Homo sapiens: one gene and its partner. The protein of the gene in region 1 interacts with the protein of each later gene in a pairwise test. Each region holds a gene or a part of one and is shown on either strand. Other genes may lie near its edges.

Region 1 (3,979 bases):
AGGAGGCTGAGCCTGATTGTCCTGAGAAATGGGAAGGATCAGATATGACTCCTCCTTGGCAACTGCCCTTTCCTGCCAGGCCCACACATACCCTCTTCTGGCTGTTAGGGGAGCTTGGGTCCCTGAACACTGTCATTCACCCAATAAATTACTATTTGACCCCAGAGTGGGTGGAAGGGTGAGCCATGTGTTTTTTTTATTTTAATTTTTAAAAAATTTAAAAAATTCCCTATTCAAAGGTCAAAAAGCCACATAAGTTTTGATGATGATCAATTTGAACGGAGGCTCGAGATGGACTGAGAGGACTGAGACACAGAAGTGGGGGGACCATGGTTTTTACTGGCTGGACCACAGGGGGACCCTGTCCACCCGCCTGGGTTGAGGAAGGTGTCTGGGGTGCTCAGGTGGGTTTGTTCTCAGCAATGCAGGCATAGTCAGCTCTTGGATCCTCCTTGGTGCCTCTCTTGTCTCTGCCCCTGAGGTCAGGTCCCTCACTGCTGGGCACTGGCAGCCTCTGCAGAGATGCATAGTGGAGTTCCTGCTCTGAGGAGCCCTGGGCCTGGGACCAGGACAGAAGGTGCTGATGGGAGGCGATGCCGTCAGATCCTTCCCTGTGAGTTCTGCTCCCACCTCCAGCCTTTCTTACTTCTCTCCCTCTCTCTCTCTCTCTCTCCCTCTCTCTCTCTCTCTCTCTCTCTCTCTTTTTTCTTTGGAGACAGAGTCCCACTATGTTGTCCAGGATTGTCTTCAACCCCTGAGCTCAAGCTATCTTCCTGCCTCAGCCTTGCGATAGCTGGAATGACAGACGTGAGCCACTGTGCCTGGTTCTGGAGCCTCTCTCTCTCTCTCTCTTTCATTGCTCTTCTCTTTGTGTCTCTCTCACTCTCATTTTCTCCCTGTCTCTCCTATCCTCTGTCTCACTTTTTCTCTTGGTTTCTGTCTCATTTTCTCTTTCTCTTTTGCCTCGATTTTCTCTGCCTCTCTCATGCTCCTACTTTCTCTCTCCTTGTCTCCCGTCCCCAACCCTCCTCTCAGCGCTCAGCCATGCTTCTCCCCACTCACCCACTCAGGATCTCTCTTGCCCTCCCCCTTCCCTGTCCCCAGACTCACCCAGCTCCTCTCCAGCCTCTTTACTGGAAGAAAAGAAGAAGCTCAACACAGCCCACCCTTTGTGCTTCTCCCGGGCCCTCCCGGGCTCCCCCCACCAGCAGGCGTGGACTCCCCTGTTGGCTTCCCAGTGGCTCCAGGGCCAGGCAGTGTTCTGGGAAAGCAGTGGGAAAGCGTGTGGGGGTGGGGGCACAGGGGGCACTGCTGCAGGGGGAGGGAGGGAGTGCAGCGCTCACCTCTTCGATGCAGCCAACACAGGCAGGCGGACAGAAGGACCACTGCCAGAAGCAGGAGCCCGCCCAGCCCCAGGCCCCCGTAGATACATATATCTTCAGGGAAGAGGGCTCAAGGTTAGGAAGCCCATTCCTTCTCCAGCGTACCCCAGCCTCCTGGTTGGTTGCAGCTTTCTCAGATTCCCTCTCCAACAGTTTTAGAGGCAGAAAAATATACCCTCAGAGCTTCTCCATCCCAGACCTTAATACCTCACCTCTTACCAGGTTTCTGGGCCTCCCGTGAGGTCCCTTTCCCTCCTGTACCAGCTGTCCCCAGAGGCCTGTCCACCTAGTCATGAGCTGCATACATCACTGTTCCCCATCACTTCCTAAGCTCCCAGGACTCTCTCTATGCAGATGCAAGAGACACTTTACTTACCATCATTCCGCGATAACATTAGGTCAGGGATCAGGGACTGGCCTGGAGGTCAGGAACTCTAGTCCTTGCTCTTTTAGGCGAAATGATCAGGGGCTGGTGACTTGCCTCAAGTTCCTCATCTGTGAAGTGAGGGGCCCTCTGTTATAATCGTTCCCAGGCTGGGGAGCCTCCCTTATGTGCCAACCCTGAGCTGGGCACTTTCCATTCCTCACTGCTAATCCCCAGAACATAGGGTATCATGGTGCCCGTTGCCCAAGTAAAGACCCGAGATTCAAGCCTGGACTTTACTAGGTCACCCATCCCAGAAAGGTGGAGCTGGGGTTTAAGGCCAGCTCTGCCCAACTCCAGAGCCCAGCCCTTTCCTCTGCCCTGGGCTGACCACGTGGTTTGGAGGGGACTTTTCAGCCCTGGATGGTTCTAGGTGCTGGTAAGGGGATGATGGAGGGGAAGGAGCCTGGGCCTGGGTGGGTGTGGGCACTGGGGGGAAGAAGGGAGGGTGATATCAGCACACCCAGCAGGTGGGCTGCTCCCTGAGCCGCAGAGCAGCGCGGGAGTGTGGGGGCCCCCTTGGCTGGTGTGGAGAGCTGCTTCCCACAGGCAGATGCTGCTAGGGCTGAAGTGGGGCATGGAGGAGTATCTGGGGCCCCATAACTTCCCCTCAGGCACTTCCTCCCCTCCAACCACTGGTTCCTGTTTGAGGGTGAAGAGGGGGCCGTTCTCTTCACCCCAGAGCCAGATATACTGACTAGGGTCTGGAAACTGGGACCCTTCTGGGTTTAAGAGGAATTCTGGGGGGTGGGGAGCAGAAGTGCAGGTGGAGGCCATAAGGGCCGTGGGCACAGAAATGAATTGTCTTTAATTTCTTTGGGGAGCAGAGACTCAGAGGATTCCTCGACGGCCCAGGGAAACTCAAACCCATACTCTCCCTCCCCTCATCTTAGCTTCACCCCACTCTGGGGTGTGACCATCCTTCCACCAAGGTCCCTGCCCATTCCCAGCTTACCCAGAGCTTGTGGCCTGCAGGATGGACAGACTCCAAACTGGCCAGTGCTGTCTGGCTGAAGAGAAGTGTTGCCACCTCAGACATTCCTGCCCCTCCTCTGGCTTTAACTTCTCCCCCAGCCTGGGTTCCTCCCCAGCATTGTTAGGAGAGGAAGTTCGGCTCCAGGGTTAGGGTTACAACATCTTTCTTTTCAAACTTCTGGGCCTGTAGCTAGGGCCATAATCTGCCTCAGCTCCAGTCATTTCACTGATCCTGCCACTAGTCAGCAAACACCCACCACCTTCAGGTGTCTTCCTTGATTAACTCTTCTCTATTACCTCTTACACTGCATCTGTTGAGACCTCTTGATCTTGGCATATGTCTGTGGACACATGTACCCTGCTCCAGTTCAGACTGGGAGCTCTGGCATATTTGGTGTTCTGGTGACCCACTTGGTGTTCTGCAGCTCTATGCAGCAGGCTGCTTGGCTGTCTGATTAACAAACATGAGAGTTAAAGGCAGCCATACTAGATCTACATGAGCCCTGTGGATAGATCAAGGACAGAAAGTTGGTGACAAGTTGGTGACAGGAAAGGAGGTGTGGGCAATACAGGTGGACTTCCTGTAGGAGGCAGCATTCTGGCATTGAACACAGAACTAAGTAAAGGCAGCGGCCTGAGGCTCTCTGGAGAGACCTGGGTGAAGGCTTCTTAGTGGCACTGTGATGGAGAAGGAGATGGGTGCTGGAGGATTGCACACCCACTCCTTGAGGAGGGTGAAGACTGGGGAGCGCCTGTAAGGCAAGGGGTGAGGAGGAGATGTGGTGCCTGGGTGGGTCCATATTAATTTGCGTTTCCCCTTCCAAATTCAAGAACCTTCTACTTCCTCCCCCACCCTTCTCCCCATCCTCCATGTTCCCCATGCTGAATAATATTCAGGGTTTTTTGTTTGTTTGTTTTGTTTTTTTTACATTTTATTATTAAAAAGTGCAAACATAGGGTGAAATGAGAATAATTGTACAGTGAACATATTCTTACCACCTAGATGCTACTATTAACATTTTTTGTTTTGTTTTGTTTTTGAGATGGGGTCTCACTCTGTCACTCAGCCTGAAGTGCAGTGGTGAAATCATAGCTCACTGCAGCCTTGAATTCCTGGGCTCAGAGGTCCTCCCACCTTAGCCTTCTGAGTAGCTAGGACTACAGACACCAGCTACCACATGAGGCTTTGTAGAAATGG
Region 2 (3,500 bases), on another chromosome or scaffold:
CAACATGTCAAACTTCCCTGCTCTCAACTTCCACTTTTCTCCTTTAAGAGCAAGCTTCAACCATGTGGATGCAAACAATAATGCTAAGTGTTACACGATAATGAGAGGAAGGAACTCAAGTCCTTAGACGGTTTTGTAAATCACAACTCTATCTCGAAAACAGAGGGCCATCTGTATAAAGGGCCAGATAGCATTTTATGCTTTTCAAACTATATGGTATCTGTTGCAGCTACTCAACTCTGCCACTGTAGCGTGAAAGCAGTCAGATCAGTAGCAAATGGGCATGGCTGCATTCCAATGTAACTATTTACCAAACAGGCAACAAGCCAGAACGTGACTTACAGGCCATTTTTTGCCAACTCTTACCCTAAAATCTAGACAATGGATTTTACAGAACAGTAAACATCTGCCTTGTTTGAGCCACTGTCTTTCTGGGTCTATGAGATACAGAAGTTTAGCCTAAAACCTAACTTGTATATACTCCAACCCTTATCCATCTCCTTTTATTCTGTTGTATGTATGCATGTATGTATTTATGTATACATTTATTTATTTGGGATGGAGTCTCACTCTGTTGCCCATGCTGGAGTGCAGTGGCATGATCCCGGCTCACTGCCACCTCTGCCTCCCGGGCTCAAGCGAGCCTTTCAAGCAGCTGGGACTATAGGCGCGCGCCACCACACCTGGCTAATTTTTTTGTATTTTTAGTAAAGATGGGGTTTCACCATGTTGGCCAGGCTGGTCTCGAACTGCTGACCCCGGTGATCCACCCACCTGTTCTCCCAAAGTGTTGGGATTACAGGCGTGACCCACTGCGCCCGGCCATATTCTGTTTTATTTAGCATTATAATACATTTTACTACGTGATGGCATATTACATTTGTTGTTTATCTTCTGTGTTCTCTCTTAATGTAAATTCCAAGAAGGCAGATACTTTGCTTCACTACTCTATCTTTAGTAACAAAACAGTACAGAATACATAGTATTTCTTAAATAAATGAACAAACACTGGATAAAAAGTACAGAAACTGGAGTAGATAAAGCCATGAAGAGAGGTGAAGGTCTTAAATGCCCTAATGAAGAGCTTCAACTTCGTTCAACAGGCAATGAGAAGCCACTGGGGGATTCCTGAGGAAGAAAGCAATATGGTCAAAACTGTACTTTTGGAAGAATCATCCCAAATAAGAATATTAGAACAACATTCTAATTGTCTAAGCCTAGGGAAAATTTGAGTTTGGTAAAATAGGCACACTAGAAACAGGAAGGAAAGGTTGACAATAAGTCAGTCTTAGAGGCAGGTGACTTGACATATAACTGGAAAATGGAGGAGTATGAAAATGACTCTCCAAGACAGCTTGGAAGTAAGAAGTCTCTTGGAAAGAAAAGGCAAACAGGTAAAAACACAAAAAAGCCCCACAAAAAACAATCAAACAAAAAATTCTGGGAAAAATACTATTTTTATCTTAAACATGTTAGACTCAATGTGCTAGCAAGACCCAGGTCTTATCTGTATATAAAAGTCCGGGGGCTCAAAAATACAGGTCTGTAAATCATTCAGAAAGATTACAGGAGAGAAGAAGCTCTCCAAATAATAAAGAATGATGACTGTTAAGACAACACTGAAAAATGCTAAGTTTCAGGGGTAAGAAGAAGTAAGAAGCATTAAAGAAGAGAGAATCATCAGAAGTAGGAGGAAGTACAATATTAAATAAAATATTGCAGAGAAATTCTAAGTGGTAATTGCAGAAGTCACAGCAGATGAAAAATTAGAAAAGGCCTTTGGACATGGATATTTAGCTCCCTGGATATAAACTATGAACTAGCTAACTTGAGACTGGTGGTAGGGACAGAAGCCTGATTACAAGAAATAAATAGGAAATACGAAGTAGAGACAATGAAGCTTAAATATACTTTTTTTTTAGTAAAGAGGGCACAAAAAGAAAAACGAAGAATTAAAGGGTCAATTTAAAACATGATGTTAGGATAAGCAGTCTTAGGGCAAATAAACAGAATTGTTGTAATACACTGTAGCAACTCACACTTCAATAGTGCTTACTGTGTGATTTAGAAACTGAGGTTTAGTAAGATTAATATGCCCAAAGTGACACAACATATAGTAGTTATAAGAGTTGGCATTCAAAGTAAAATCTGACTTCCAAGCCTGTGCTTTTTTTTTGAGACAGTGTCTCCCTCTGTTGCCCAGGTTGGAGTGCAGTGGTGTGAGCTCAGCTCACTGTAACCTCCATCTGCCGGATTCAAATTATTCTTGTGACTCAGCCTCCAGAGTAGCTGGGATTACAGGCACATGCCACCACGCCTGGCTAAGGCCTATGCTTTTAATCATTAAACAACACTGCCTGTTAATTGAGACAATGGATAGAATATGCTTAAGTAGGAGGGAGGTTAAGGAAGAAAAGTTAAATGGCTTGCATTGTCTCAGTTTTTAAAGCAGTAACATGTTGGCAATGACACTTATATGGCATTATGATAAATGAGTGTTTGCACATGTGACATGTTTAGTACAGGTCCCATTATAAGTGCTGAATAAATGAACTATTTTTAGGCGGACGCATTAAGTCCTCCCCGATCCCTACCACTTGTTTCCCTTTGGAAGAAATTCAGCCTAGTCTTTCTCTCCATCTATCATTCATACCTCCCTATAGAAGGAAGGAAAAGTATTCTAACTGGTAAGCCAAATCCTTCCTCTCTTCAGACCCATCGGCCTCCATCAAAGTGCACTTTCATCTGCTTTCTAGCTTGCAATAGGGAATCTGCCTCACGTTGTCTCTAGCAAGGCAGGCAAATCCATGTATTTCTGAGGAGTATTCACAAGCCATGGTGAACACAGACCAAAATCACATTATCCAACTGGTTTTACCAACATTAAACGTGGCACTTTAATCTCCAGCCATCTGACTTTTAAAACTATCTTTTAACTGGTTCAGAACTCCACTGGTAAACAGAAATATATGTTTACAATCCCTAACTCCTTCATAGATAATACTATTATTTTATTGCAGATCAGTCATTTACATTAAAAGATACCTAGAATGTAGTGTGCATTTTAATAAACAGATACATTGCTTACCCTGATTATAATCTGTGCCACATCAAAGTCTGAAACATCATCTAAAATTGGCTGGGTATTTTCTGGTCCATAAACAAGGCAGTTAAACAAGGTTTTAGAAAAGAAACCAGGTGAAGGACCACCGTGAACTAAAGAAATGGCAAGCATTTTGCCAGCTTCATAGTAAAGATTCTCTTTCAGAGCTGTAAATACAGATGAAAATATATCAAATACACTTCTATTATTATAAGATAACCATCATTTTTTATATTAAAAATTAGTCCAAAAATCTAAGCATTAGATAAATATAATTCTTAGAAGCTATCATTATGTAGAAAATATAGATCTTACCTAAAATATAAAAAAAGACACATTTTTCTGAATATAAAGTAAAAATCTATTGTAGAAAACATAAAACACAATAAACCTACCA

The links. The genes of interacting proteins can lie anywhere in the genome.
Region 2: the proteins of LST1 (region 1) and G2E3 interact in a two-hybrid assay, tested with the Homo sapiens proteins (one large-scale study listed by IntAct).

The regions. Positions count from the first base shown.
Region 1 is NC_000006.12:31,585,098-31,589,076, reverse strand, and holds LST1 (leukocyte-specific transcript 1 protein), read right to left. Parts: upstream 2,801-3,979; 5' UTR 2,762-2,800; intron 2,379-2,761; exon of another isoform or gene 2,270-2,378; intron 1,878-2,269; 5' UTR 1,778-1,877; coding exon 1,759-1,777; intron 1,437-1,758; coding exon 1,344-1,436; intron 1,134-1,343; coding exon 1,111-1,133; intron 581-1,110; coding exon of another isoform or gene 560-580; coding exon 401-559; 3' UTR 168-400; downstream 1-167. Other genes in the region: NCR3 (natural cytotoxicity triggering receptor 3 isoform a precursor), read left to right, coding at 1-10. UniProt on the Homo sapiens protein: Possible role in modulating immune responses. Induces morphological changes including production of filopodia and microspikes when overexpressed in a variety of cell types and may be involved in dendritic cell maturation.
Region 2 is NC_000014.9:30,607,658-30,611,157, reverse strand, and holds part of G2E3 (G2/M phase-specific E3 ubiquitin-protein ligase), read right to left. Parts: intron 3,271-3,500; coding exon 3,089-3,270; intron 1-3,088. UniProt on the Homo sapiens protein: E3 ubiquitin-protein ligase which accepts ubiquitin from an E2 ubiquitin-conjugating enzyme in the form of a thioester and then directly transfers the ubiquitin to targeted substrates. Essential in early embryonic development to prevent apoptotic death.